4 linked regions of the Homo sapiens genome follow. The protein of the gene in region 4 interacts with the protein of the main gene of each other region in a biochemical or structural test. Each region holds a gene or a part of one and is shown on either strand. Other genes may lie near its edges.

Evidence for each region.
Region 1: the proteins of DICER1 (region 4) and PRKRA form a complex in vitro, tested with the Homo sapiens proteins (one study listed by IntAct).
Region 2: the proteins of DICER1 (region 4) and DHX58 form a complex in vitro, tested with the Homo sapiens proteins (one study listed by BioGRID).
Region 3: the proteins of DICER1 (region 4) and EIF2AK2 form a complex in vitro, tested with the Homo sapiens proteins (one study listed by BioGRID).

What each region holds. Positions count from the first base shown.
Region 1 is NC_000002.12:178,434,143-178,437,734, forward strand, and holds part of PRKRA (interferon-inducible double-stranded RNA-dependent protein kinase activator A), read right to left. Parts: intron 2,178-3,592; coding exon 2,003-2,177; intron 1-2,002. UniProt on the Homo sapiens protein: Activates EIF2AK2/PKR in the absence of double-stranded RNA (dsRNA), leading to phosphorylation of EIF2S1/EFI2-alpha and inhibition of translation and induction of apoptosis.
Region 2 is NC_000017.11:42,102,714-42,106,305, forward strand, and holds part of DHX58 (ATP-dependent RNA helicase DHX58), read right to left. Parts: intron 3,277-3,592; coding exon 3,023-3,276; intron 2,455-3,022; coding exon 2,305-2,454; intron 2,215-2,304; coding exon 2,053-2,214; intron 1,086-2,052; coding exon 895-1,085; intron 1-894.
Region 3 is NC_000002.12:37,132,889-37,136,480, forward strand, and holds part of EIF2AK2 (interferon-induced, double-stranded RNA-activated protein kinase), read right to left. Parts: intron 2,659-3,592; coding exon 2,596-2,658; intron 1-2,595.
Region 4 is NC_000014.9:95,102,030-95,105,529, forward strand, and holds part of DICER1 (endoribonuclease Dicer), read right to left. Parts: intron 3,218-3,500; coding exon 3,042-3,217; intron 2,098-3,041; coding exon 1,317-2,097; intron 1-1,316. UniProt on the Homo sapiens protein: Double-stranded RNA (dsRNA) endoribonuclease playing a central role in short dsRNA-mediated post-transcriptional gene silencing.

The sequences.
Region 1 (3,592 bases), on a different chromosome or scaffold from region 4:
CTCTGTCACTCAGGCTGGAGTGCAGTGGCGCGATCTCGGTTCACTGCAACCTCTGCCTCCCGGGTTCAAGTGATTCTCCCACCTGAGCCTCCCGAGTAGCTGGGATTACAGGTGCACGCCACCTTGTCTGGCTAATTTTTGTATTTTTAGTAGAGACAGGGTTTCACCGTGTTGGTCAGGCTGGTCTCAAACGCCTGACCTCAGGTGATCTGCCCGACTTGGCCTCCCAAAGTGCTGGGATTACAGGTGTGAGCCACCGCACCTGGCCTCCAGCCTCTTTTCTTTTTTTTTTTTGAGACAAGTCTAACTCTGTCACCCAGGCTGGAGAGCAGCGGCATGATCATGGCTCACTGCTGCCTCAACCTCAGAGGCTCAAGTCATTGTCCCCACCTCAGCCTCCCTAGTAGACTGGACTACAGGCATGTGCCACCACACCCAGCTAATTTTTCATCAGCCACCTTTTCTAACCATCTGTCTGCACTGACTTCCCAGGTTCTGCATCATTATTGGTTTACTGAGACAATGCACTTCACCCGTCCTTCAATCCCAAAGTAGCACAGAATATCAGGAGTTCTTTGAGCCCCTAAGTGCCCTACTTTCCCAGGGTCAGGGGACCCTGACAAGCAAGGTCCCCACATCTTTCTGTGGTTGGATAGGGATATAAAATTTCTCACACATGTTAAATCAAGATACTTTGGCCAGGCACGGTGGCTCACACCTGTAATCCCAGCACTTTGGGAGGCTGAGGTGTACAGATCACTTGAGGTCAGGAGTTTGAGACAAGCCTGGTCAACATGGTGAAACTCCCATCTCTACTAAAAAAAAAAAAACTTTGGGAGGCCGAGGTGGGTGGATCATGAGGTCAGGAGTTTGAGACCAGCCTGGCCAACATGGTGAAACCCCGTCTCTACTAAAAATGCAAAAATTAGGTGGGTGTGGTGGCACACAGCAGTAGTCCCAGCTACTCAGGAGGCTGAGGCAGGAGAATTGCTTGAACCTGGGAGGCAGAGGTTACAGTGAGCTGAGATCATGCCACCGCACTCCAACCAGGGCAACAGATCAAGACTCCATCTTGGGGAAAAAAAAAAAAATTAGCCAGGCTTGGTGGTGGATGCCTGTATTCCCAGCTTCTTGGGAGACTGAAGCAGGAGGATCGCTTGAACCCAGGAGGCAGAGGTTGCAGTGAGTTGAGATTGTGCCACTGTACTCCAGCCTGGGCAACAGAAACAATACTCCGTCTCAAAAAAAAAAAAAAAAAAAAAAAATCAAGACACCAAACACACACAACTAATTAGCTCTATAAATTGAATTAAAAGAAAATCCATACTGACTTGCTTTCCCATCTGTCCATATTTGTCTATCCAAATGATTAAGGGCTAGAGAAAATACAGATGATGATGGCTGAGATGGGATAAAACTATAAATTGACTTGGTTCCATTTACCTCCCAGAATCAGCATACAGTGACAAAGTAGAGAGAAAAGGTCTGGGCACCACAAACTTGTACTTGTGCTAGAAATGTAGGTGCCTTTTCATTTGCCCAGCAGGGCTAGTTTAACAGCCAGGGTATCTTCTGGGACTCTTCCCCAAATCTTGCTCTACCGCTGACTAGCTATGTGATCTTGGGCAAGTTTCTCAACCTTTCTGTGCCTTTCTTCCTTTACTTATAAATAAGGATAACAGAATTTGCTTCATAGAGTTAGTCTGAGGATTCAGTAAGTAGATACGTGTAATCTTAGAACAGTGTCTGGCACACAGTAAAACTCTATCTTTGCTATTGTTGTTTTTGTTATAACTGTATAGATGTTAGCTATTATTACTATCCACAAGAATGGGACATATCAATTATATATATTACTGGCCTAGTAATTATATATACTTAGAATCCCTGATCAATAAAATAAATTGTAATAGAAATTTTTATTCCTCAAACACATTTTTGTTCCTCAAACACATTTTTAAATAAACATGTCTTGGGAAAGCCAAAGAAAAAAAAATCATACCTATATCCAAATATGTTATATTAAAACCTTGTTCCTTGGCAATTTCACTAAGCAGCTGGATGTAATCTGTATTTGGAATACTAAGGAGGCTTCTTTTCAGTAAGTTGATCTTTTCACCAGGAGAATTCCTCAAGGAATGCCAAGTACATCCTAAAGAATGTCCTACTACATTTGTCTGAAAAACAGAGATGAAGATTTAGACTCTTGACTAGGACTGGGTTCCAACACCCGTACCAGTATCATTAAAAGTACTTATTAAGCACTCACATTTAATATGTTATAAAGCATGTTTAAATGGATAACATTTGGTTAATTTTCCAATTTAAACAAGACAACATTAAAAAGTACACATTTAACAATACTATATGTTTTTAAGAAGCACTTGCAATAATATACTGAAAGCATTTTGTATTTTGTATAGTACAAATGTTTCTCAGTCAAGTTTTCTGATGGTCACATTAAGAGGTACAAGATATCTGGAAGCACCATAAGTAAATCCACAAATAATTAAATCTGCCTAATGGAGCAATTTGCAGATTAAAATATAGAACAATTTTCATATCTTTGGTTTTTTTTGTATTAAATACCAATCACTATAACTGACAGCTATCAAACAGGAAAAAAAACAGAAAAAAAAACTAAAAAAAACATGAAATGTGCGCGTTGGGTTTGAGGAACAAGTCATTCAAATAAATGACAGGATGTCAAAAAGTTCTTATCAGACTTCTATCCCAGAACCCAACTGAGTATTTTTTTCCTTTTTCTTTCTGCTTTTCCTCTTTCCTTTATCCTCCCCTATATCCTTCCCTTTTCATCTCTGTCCTTAGAATGCCTTATATTTCCATATTAGTTTATGGTTCTCAAATTGCTTTCATATGCCATTAATAAAAACAACTACTTTCTGAAGTAAGTAGGGTTACTACTCTTAATATTGTTTTATTAATGAGCACGACAGAGGGGAGGCAATTTCCAAAAGATTTTAGAGATGGCATGATATGGAATTAAGTAATTTATTAGATTTACCAAATAAAAATTTACATTATAGAAACTTTAAAATACTGTTTTTAAATAAAGAACACTATTTACATGGTTAAAAATATACATGCACTAAGAACAAATATATAATGAAGAGTACAGTCTCTTTTCCTTACCACCCATTCCCTGAAGACCTCTGTTCTATTTCTTAGACATACTGTTAAACATTTTTCAGTATCTTCCCATAAATGTTCTATGCATATGCAAGCACACACAATCTTTTAAAGCAAATGATAACTTACTCCTCTACATCTTGTTCATTTTTCTTTTATCAGTGCACATATATGCACTGTATTTACCTTACGGATCTCCAACTGTGAGCTTTAGGTTGTTTCTAGTTTCTTGCTTTTACTAGCAATAAACACTCTTTTGCACTTGAATGAGTTTCTCTGTAGAATTATTTCTAGAAGTGGAACTGCTAAGTCAAAGAACATGTACACTTTTAATTTTGATAAATACTTCCAAACTGATTTCTGAACCAATTTATACTCCTACCAACTGTCTTGGAGGGGGCTTGTTTTCTCATACCCTCACTAATACCAGCTATTATCAAAT
Region 2 (3,592 bases), on a different chromosome or scaffold from region 4:
TGACCTTTCAAATCTTCCACGGGCTAGTCTGTCTTTTTCTAAATCTCATTATTCACAGTCCCTTCCACTCAGGTCAACTGGTGTCGCTTTTTTTTTTTTAAAGGCAGAGTCTCACTCTATTGCCCAGGCTGGAGTGCAGTGGTGCGATCTTGGCTTGCCTCCCGGGTTCAAGTGATTCTCATGCCTCAGCCACCCAAGTAGCTGGGATTACAAGCATGGGCCACCACGCCCAGCTAATTTTTGTATTTTTTTTTAGTAGAGAAGGGGTTTCAATATGTTGGCCAGACTGGTCTTGAACTCCTAACCTCAAGTGATCTACCCACCTCCGCCTCCCAAAGTGTTGGAATTACAGGCGTGAGCCACTGCACCTGGCCCTCCATGGTTACCTTCTCATTCGCTCACATTCAAACCAGACCCATTGAGACCTAGCTGAAATGCAACCTCCTCAATTGAGAAAATCTGTGTGAAGATCCTTGGCACAGTGGCCCGGAACACAGAGGGTAACATAATGAATGGATGGAGGATGGGGGAAGGTTACTCTCTAGGAGATAGTGGATGGAGGATGGCCCAGGGATGGCCAAGCTCTCTTGATATCTTCGGAATAGGTAGGACCAGAGGGTCAATGTGTGGTCTTTTGACACTTAGTATCCTGAATTCCAGTTCTTGCTCAACCAGATAGTGGCTGTGGGAACTTGGGCAAGTCACATAGCCTCTCTGAGCCTCTATTTCCTTGCCTGTAAAATGGAGACAGGGATAAAACCTGTCTAACCAGATTATTGTGAAAATGCAAAGTACTTGCTACAATGCTCTTTAGCTTCCCAAAGCTTCAAAGCACTGTCTGGATGGGAAGGATTCCCAGGCCCCCATCCCAGTAGCCCCTTCCACAGGTCTCACGAGAAGTTGGGGTTCACATTGACATGGTGGGTGCCCTCCACCTTCCGCAGGTCGCTGCCATGGCCCACAGCCACCATGCAGTTGATGCAGAGTAGCTGCACGTGCTCCACTGGGAACTGCTGCCGCTGGTTCTCCCGCTGGGCTGCCTGGGCCGCCCGCTTGGTCAAGGCTGCCTGCTGCAGATCCCGGATCTGGGGTGGGAGGAGACACCAGGCATGGCTGGGGCCTAAGAGAACGTTCCTTGGGGGACAAAAGGTTCCCAAAGAACTAAGATCATTTGTACCTGGAAGAGACTTTCCTTAACCCTCCCTGGAGCTTAAAAGAAGCTCTATTGCTGTGATGATGCAGTAACTCATGCCTGTAATCCCAGCATTTTGGGAGGCCAAGGCGGGTGGATCACGAGGTCAGGAGTTCGAGACCAGCCTGGGCAACATGGTGAAACCCCATCTCTACTGAAAATACAAAATTAGCCGGGCATGGTGGCGCATGCCTGTAATCCCAGCTACTCGGGAGGCTGAGGCAAGAGAATTGCTTGAGCCCAGGAGGTGGAGATTGTGCCATGCACTCCAGCCTGGGTGACAGAGTGAGACTCCGTCTCGGGGAAAAAAAAAAAAACAGCTATGGAGAAAAACAGTATGAGTAGTCGGGGGCAACAGTGGGAGGGGTAAGCTTTCCTGCTCAATCTTGAAGGACTTTAGGCAAAGCTGCTTCTGTGAATCTGTCATGGGGCATCATTAACAATTATGCTGGGACAACAGGGAGCACCCTGGACAAGGCAGGATGGTGGTGGCCCTGCCTCAGGGGAACTGATGATATAAGTCCTAGTTCTGGGCTTATCTTCTGCACGTGGACTTATCTTGTCCCCTCTGCCTGGTTCCAGAAAGGCTGTAATGCAGCTCTTCCAGATACATAAAGTATCTCATGGCAAAGATAAATAAAGAGCCTTGGACAAGGCCTGTTCCCAAGGCCTTCTGGAGTCCAGGTACTGCCTTCCCTGGCAGCCCCACCCCGGCCCTTATTTAAACCTTCCCTAGGTGGCCAAAGTTAGCCCCGAGATGTAGAGGGGACAGGGGGACGTATGTGTGCAGTCAGAAACCTGCCAGGGAGGGGCTCCCTCCTCCCCATCCCTCCCACAGGGCATGCAGGCTGCCTGCAGACCTTGGCCTGGTACTCGGCCTGGTCCATTTTCTGCACAGCAGCCACTGCCTGCTCCATCAGCGTCTCCAGCGCCTCGTTGATCAGCTCCCGCTTCAGCTCCCGGCTACCTTCAGTTGCTACAAACGCGTATACACTCTGATCGGCCCGGGCACGGCCCCTGGCCTGGGAAGAGAGACAAGGGGTGTCCTGAGTTGGGCTGGGGCCCCACACAGGATCCTATAAGGGCGGCTGAGTGGAGGAGGATGTGAGTACCTGGACCATGGAGATTTCATTGGTCAAGAGCCCATAACGCACCACCACATTGCAATGTGGGATGTCCAGCCCCTCCTCCGCCACACTCGTGGCCACCAGAAGGTTCAGGGTTCCATCTTGGAACTTCTGGATCACTTCTTGCTGGTCCCTCTGCAGGCGGAGGGCAGGGAGGAGAAAGAGGCTGGTACATGAGGAGGCTCAGACTGACTCCACCTGCCAGAGTAGCCTCTTCTGGTTCAGCCCTCACTCCCAATCTTGGTCCATCTCCCTAGAGTACTTGAATCCCATCTTTATCCCCAGGTACCCCCAGGATCTTGCCCATCTTCCCAGGTAACTGTCCAACCCCTATCTTCCCTAGGGACTCCTAAGGGTCCCTGCCCCTCTAGTCTAGGAAAAACTCTCAAGCCATAGTCTTCTGCAAGGGACCCCAGACCTGATCCTGTGCCCTGAGGAACTGCATCACCCACCTCTTTCCCTACGGACCCCCATGCCCAACCTTCTGCCCCCAAGGACCTCCAGACTGGGAGAGGCTCCAGCACTGGGGAGGTCAGTGTCCGCCCCTCTCCCCTAGCTCCTTGCCCCTCTGCCTGGGGATAGTCAACTTTCTCTTTCCCCAGGGTCTCCCTGCCCCCACCTCTCTGTGCTGAAGACCCTGTTCCCCGCACTTCTCTCCTATGGAATCCCTCCCAGCGCCAGCATCTTTCCCCGAAGCCCACACCTGGGTCATGTGGGTGCTCTGGCTGCTGTTCCCAGCCCCAATCAGTAGCTGGGCCCGGATGTCCACAGTCTGCAGGCCCTGCTGCTGCTGGAGCCAGAGCAGGAGGGAGTGTGCGCTTTGGCGGGTGCGGGTGAAGATGATACCCCGAGGGCTGTTAGAGCTACTGAACTGCCTTTGCAGGATCTTTTCCAGCATCTCCAGTTTTGGATTCTCTGGGCCATGAGTTGCCAAGTGGGCCAGCTCATTCTTGCGGTCTGTCAAAAACCCCAAAATTTAGCTGGGTGTAGTGGCACATGTCTGTAGTCCCAGATACTTGGGAGGCTGAGGGCAGAAGGATCGCTTAAGCCTAGGAGGTCAAGGCTGAAGAGAGCTATGATTGCACCACTGCACTCCAGGCTGTGTAACAGAGTGAGACTCTGTCTGGGAAAAAAAAAAAGAAAGCAAGAAAGCAAGAGAAAGAGAGAGAGAGAAAGAGAGAAGGAAAGAAAGGGAGGGAGGGAAAGAAAGAAAAAAAGGAAAAGAAAGAGAGAGAGAAAGAGAGAAGGAAAGAAGGGAAGGAGGGAAGGAAGG
Region 3 (3,592 bases), on a different chromosome or scaffold from region 4:
TTGATACCTTTTCGGCATGGGTTGAGGCTTTTCCGAAAACCAACAAATGAGCTTCGACTGTCACCTCCAAATTAATAACAGAAATCATCCCCAGGTTCAGGGTGCCTCCTTCTTTTCAATCTGATAATGGTCCTGAATTCATTTCTCAAATTACTCAAACACTTGCACAAGCCCTACGAATCACCTGGAAGCTACACATCCCCTATCAACCCCAGTCTTCAGGAAAGGTTGAAAAAATGAATGGCATTCTAAAAATCACCCGCACCAGGTACTCACTCCAAACACATAAAGACTGGGTTACACTTCTAGCTTTGGCCCTCCTAAAAATTCGGGCACTCTCACGTAAACCTTTAATGCTCATCCCCTTTGAACTCATGTATGGGAGTTTTGAGCATAAGTATTTGAACTCATGCTCCTTTTGTTCCACCTCAGGGTCAAGCCCCACCTCTAACAACCCCTCTCATTTCTCCTCTTCTGCATATCATCTGCCATTTCATTTGGGAATATGCTGACAAAATACAACTCCTTTAATCCCTTCCTACAGTCAGGAAACTGGGTTCTGGTAAAAGGTCCCAGCCCTACCCCCAATTCCCCCCTCACACCAAAATGGAAGGGGCCTTACCAGATCTTCCTCACTACACCCACAGCAGCAAAGCTCCAGGGACTCCCCAGCTGGTTTCATTATACTTCTCTCAAGAACACAGACTTCCCTTCACTACACATCCAAACAATCAAATCTAAACCACCTTCAGCCTCTCTTGTGTCTCCACAGGATCCACTTCCCTTCATCTCACATGAATGCCGGAGGAAAAGGAAGAGAAATTCACCTAAGCAGCTATGTCTCTTTCTCTCCCAAACTTTCATTGCTTCCTAACTAGCCTTGTTACAGACCTTCAGTGGTATCCTTATGAAACTCTCATTATACATCCTGATCAGCTCCTTACTATTCCACGGGATTTATGGCTTCAAGGAACCTTCCAGGACTTTATTCCTACCCAAACTTTTTCCTCCTTTTGTTGTTTCTTTCTATCTAAATTCCCTAATCACATCAACCTCACCGATACAACCACTCCTCACTGCTATCAAACTAGAACGTTCTATAAACCTTACACAACCCCTCTTGCTGCAAGCTAACTCTTCCTTTGCTCCAGAATGCTGGATGTGTTTATCGCTGTCTTCTTCAGCTTATACATCCCTTCCTACACCCCTTCATGACCTTTTAACAGAAAACGTAACCCTAATCTATAAACTCCAAAAAGGAGCTTCCTTTTTTGAAAGAGCTGACAGTCTGGTTGGCGATTATCCCACTTCCAAGGTCAATCAGGCCAACACATTATTTCAAACCTATTACAACTCCCTACAACGCCTTAAGCCACAAGGCCCTCCCATTGAAGGGCCCATAATTAAACACACCCCACTTTTACAACAAGCCTCACTTTGCTTTTCAGCCTCTGAGGGAAATTTCCGTGTAAGATCCTTAAACCTAACCAATGCAACCGCATTATCATTGTTAAACACCCTGCTGACCATCAAACTAACCGAGTTGACTACCAAGTATCACCTGAAACGAATGGAGCATTTCTGCAACCTGTTCGTTTTGCAGCCTCTCCCTCAACCAATGCCTCTGGCCTAATTTGTGCTGCCCCTAGCGCCCACCTTTATCCATGGCTCAACATCAATGCAATGGTGCAACATCAAATCGTATTAAATGTGTAAAAAATAACTCTTCCTATATCGCTACTATAGTGGGTGTCTCCTTGACCTCCTCCTTGACCACCTGGAGTAATGAACCATAGGAAAGAAAAAACACCCATCTTTAATTCACTTGTTTTCTTTCTGTATCTCCAACTGTATTTATGACAAAGGCTTATTTTTTGTGTGAGTGGCACCAACACATATCTTTGTCTCCCCACTAACTGGACTGGAACCTGTACCCTAGTTTATCTTTCTCCCTCCATTGGACTAATTCCTCCTAGCCAACCTTTGCCCATTCCATCCATCCAATACGTTAGGAAGAGGAGGGCCATCCACGTCATTCCTTTAATGGCTGCCTTGGATATAACCTCCAGACTTGGATTGGGAGCAGGCAGATTGGCCACTCCCTTAACATACTTTAAAGCTCTTTCCACAGAATTACAGGGTTCTTTAGAAGATATAGCCTGAAGCATTATAAGAGTCCAAGACAAACTAGACTCCTCGGCTGGAGTAGTCCTCCAAAACAGATGGGGACTAGATCTAATAATGGCTGAAAAAAGGGACCTCTGCCTCTCATTGGGTGAGGAATGTTGCTTTTATCTCAACCAATTGGGCCTAGTAAGAAACGCTGATGAAAAACTTAAAGAAAGGGCTAAAAAGCTAAGGGAGTATCAAAACAACCAACTAGATTCTTGGTTTGGGAACAAAATCATAATATGGGTCATCCCATTCCTGGGCCCCCTCTTAATGATAAGCCTAAGACTATTGTTCTTACCCTGCGTAGTTAATCTTATTCAAATATTTTTAACTGACAGGATCATGGCCATTTCACAGACAACTACCAAAAACATCCACCGACAGCATTACCCCTTCTTCTTTCTTCAGCACTTAAAATCTTACCTCTTGTCCACAGTATACTTTGTTTCTTTCATGTCAGGAAGGTCAAATCTGGGTGCCAAAGATCTAAAAATTAAGAGTTGAATGTAAAACTCAAATAAAATTGAAATCAAATATAACTTATTTAGTGTTAATGTTAACCTTTTTCTTTCTTTTTTTTTCTTCAGAGGCAAGGTCTCACCCCATCTCCCAGCCTGGAGTGCAGTGGTGTGATCATAGCTCACTACAACTTTGAAATTCTGGGCTCAGAGGAGATCCTCCCACCTCAGCCTCCCAGGTAGCTGGGATTACAGGCATGTGCCACCATACCTGGCTAATTCTTTTTATTTTTAGTAGAGACAGGGTCTCTTCATGTTACCCAGTCTGGTCTCGAACTCCTGGACCCAAGCCATCCTCCCACCTTGGCCTCCCAAAGTGCTGGGGATCACAGGCGCAAGCCACAGCACCCAGCCAACTTTTTTCTTTATAAAACTATATACTTACCGTTCTCCTCTGGCCTCTAATACTTTTTCATCCCTCCTCTGGTTCCTTTTTCCACCTTAGAGTGCTCATTGTTGATGCGTCACTAACCTCTCCTTTTCCTCCTCCAGACTCAAAACCTCAGGAAGTACATCTCCTTACACCCTCATCCTAGCTGTTATTCCTTACTGATGATAAGCCACCTGCAAATGGAAGTTTAAATACCACCTAAAACTAAACATATCCAAACTGCTGTCTTCTCTCTAAGCCCTTAACTCCTTAACTTCCTTAACACCATTAGTGCCATGGTTCTTGACTGCATCCTGTTCAAAGTGAAGCAATCTTCAAATCCTTTCTCCTTTACCTCTCCTTCATGCTTTCACTCAGCTACGGGGAACCTATTCCCTCAAGTCATGTCCACTCTTCCTTTACAGTCTTTCTCACACATTCTCCTCATCCCTCCTGACTGCCACAGTAATCGTGGCTGAGGGCACCTCATGTGCAGAACTCTCTTCTCTCCATCCAAGCATCCACATCAAGA
Region 4 (3,500 bases):
AAAATAAAAGTTTCTACCTCTCAGAATTATAAAAATTAAATTAGGTTTATATGCATATATGTGTATATATGTGGGTGTGTGTACGTGTGTGTGCGTATACGGTTATCTTTTAGAGTAGTGCAGAGTAAGCACTTTTAAATTGTTAGCTAAAATTATTTCTTCTGAAATTCTCACTCACCTCAGCCCCTTCCTCTCTACCAGAACTCTAGTTCTATCCCATTCTCTGCTTCTGCTGTTGGTTTGGATATGCTTTTCAACTCACACTACATTCTGCTACCAGATTAATCATTTTAAACTACCACTTTATTAACATTAATAGTTCCTTGCTCTAAATTCCTTCAACAGTGCCTACAACATTCAAAACACGTGCAAACTCCTTAGCCCAGCATTCAAGGCCTTCCACGATACAGCTTCACCCCAGCTGCCTTTTCAAGCCTTTTCTCAGGTATTTCCACACTTCTGACTGCTGCCACGGCTGCTTCCCTGACGCTGACATGCTCTGCCATCTGTTCACTTTGCTTATGCACTGTCAACTTGCCTCCTCCATTAATGCCATCCTTGATTCAACAGTGATGCTCCTTCCTTCTGAGTGCTGCAAGTGATCAGCAGCTTTCTAAGGTATTTGTCCAGGAGGCTCATGTTGCCTTGTGAGACTTTTTTCCATTTTTCCCCCATAACTTGAATATCTTACCTTCATTCCTTTTCTTAAGTCTTAGTCCATGCTGAGTTTAAGAGCCCGCCCTTTCTCTGAGCTATCGAGCGTTAATTACTCAGAACTCTGGTGTCACCCTCTTCACACTGGAGAGCAGCCAAGCTCTGTGAAGCTTGTTACTCTTCTCCGCTCCACTCTCCAAAACTTTGGAGATGAGCTCCTCCACAAGACTTGTGTCTTACTCATGTCTGTATGCCTTGTAAGCCAAGACGTACCCTCTCAAATAAATGTTTAACTCAACAAAGCAGAAGCTCCTTGACTGACTACAATGCACATTTCTTCATATCCCCCTCAGGATCAAGGGGTGTACACACTTGCATAGCTTCCTTTGAACTGACTTTCAATCAAAAAGTAAGGCACGTGGAGATCAGCTAAGCCCCAAAACCTGAGTGTGGGATTGGTGTAAAGCAATACTCATCAACTGCCAGGTAGTTCTGCCACAGGCTTTCGCTGGCCCTGGTAGAACAAGGGAGCAGCTGTGCTTGGCCGGTGTAGCAATTTCTGAGCATGATACGTTCTCATCCTCTGAGATTATCCAACACTGCAAACCACTTTCAGGCACACTGAATAATTAACTGCTCAAAATAAAAAAATCATCTCTTACCTTTTTGCTTCTCATATATGAAAGGCGGCCCTCATGCGCATCAGGGTAAGTGCAAAATAGATATGTGGTGATGGCATGCTTTAAAAAGGAGTCGCCAAGCATTTCAAGCCGCTCCAGGTTAAATCCATCACTAGCGTTTGACAGAGTCAAAGCCTGAAGAATAAGTCCAGGATTGGGGCCAAGAGTCCTTGAGGAGTACCCAATAGAAGGGCTCTGCTCAGAATCCATCCTGCCCTTGAGCACTTGAATAGTGTCTGTCGTACCAGGCATTACGGCCATCACAGGACTTCCATCTGAGGTAGATTTGTTAGCATTTCCATCAAGGTATTTATTACTCAGGAGAGTACATTCATCGCTGGGCTGGGGCTGGTTCTCGTAACTGTATAAATTCTGAATGGAATATGAGGTAGTTGGTTGCACGGGTATTTCCTGCTTGTAGTAATTTAGCTGATTTCCTTGGCAAAAGTCTCTGTTAGCTAAATCATAACTGCCATTGGCGAGATTTTGATTGTAAGAAAGACCATTAATTGCTGTAAGATCTGCTGAAACTTCAACGTGGAGCTTACCAGGGGACTCGCTGAGCAACGTTCTGCAGTTCACAGACATTTGGTCATGATTTTCTAGAGAGGAGGTTCTATTAGCACCTTGATGTGCAGCATTTTCAGGGACAATTGTGCTGTGCTTACAGTAATTATCATTTTCAGCTGAAGAGGAGTTAGAAATTGAGATGAAAGATTTGCTGTCAATAGATTTTTTCCACCCGAAGTCTAAGTTAGGGTATCTGCAAAGACATTTTTATAACTTTACATCAGATTCTTCAAAACAGCTAGGCTGAGAGCAACAGCAATTTGAATTTAAAAACAAAAACAAAGATCCCAAAAATGTACTCCTAAACTTTAGAATAGAAGCAAGTTTCCAAATTTTTAATTTACAGTGTAAATTATAAAGTGGGACATGGTTTTATCTACTGCTTTAATCCCTGGCCCTAGACTCTAGGTGTGGTAGTTAAGAAGGTCACGAAGCTTGCAGGCATCCTGCAGGACCTGGGGCCTAGCTTCACGGGTTGGAATCCCAGGCACTCTGGTTAACCCGCTGAGTAACTCTGGGCAACTTACATAAACTCTCTGTGCCTCAGCTTCTGCACCTGAGAAAAGGGCTAACAATTCCTATCTCATAGCACTGTCTTAATGATTAAATGAGCTAACTAACACAGGGTACAGCATTTAAGCTAGTGTTTGGCACTATAGCAACTAACCAATAAATATTGTGGTTATTCCTATTATATTTTAAAATTCCTTCAATCCCTAGAACAGTCTTGATATTGCCAATTGGATAACCAGAACTAATGTGAGTGTTTAAGCCAACAGTTTCTTTAGAATGCAGAGATTTTACTAATGGGAAGAAAATAATGAAGACAAAGAACATGCTAAGGCTATTGCTTTTTAACATATATTTGGATTTTTAAAAGAAAAAACAGACTGAAAATGCTGATGCAGTAACAAAGAACAATTTCATTCTCACTCCAACTGTTATGGCTTAAGCAGTAATGGTTATTTCTGACCTCAGATTCTCATCTCCCTCTGAGACTTGACAAGACATAAGATATCCATTATTTTCTTTTTACTCTTTTAAGAATTATTTTATATACAATTTTAACTTAATTCTGTTCTTTTGCAAACAGGATCTCATGATCTGTGTTCTTTCTGGCTGACTGCACAGGCATACCTAAAATCCGCAGGAAGTGATCTGACTCCCACGCCAGCATCGCTGGCAGTCTGGGCTCTTAGCTCCTCTGCAGTCAAAAGGCAGTGAAGGCGATAAAGTATGCTGGGGAGACAAACAGCTTTTCTCCACAGTGATGCTGGAATTGGATGTATAGCACAGAGTTCTGGAACCAGTATCTTCAAGTAAGGGGAAAAATGGACAGATAAATACAAAGCGCACACACAAAAGAAAAAAAAAAAGACCAATTTCACTAATGGATAAAGAAAATCATAAATGCTAGTAAAACTTAATTTTAAAAAATATTTGTAAAAATAATCCTCTAAGGCCAAATGGGATTTATCAAAGGATTTATGAGAATGATTTTGTGATATATTAATGGGCCAAGTATAAAAACAAAACTCTCAATACTTACCAAAAAGAACATTCAAATAACATTCAACACATAATACTAATTAAAAC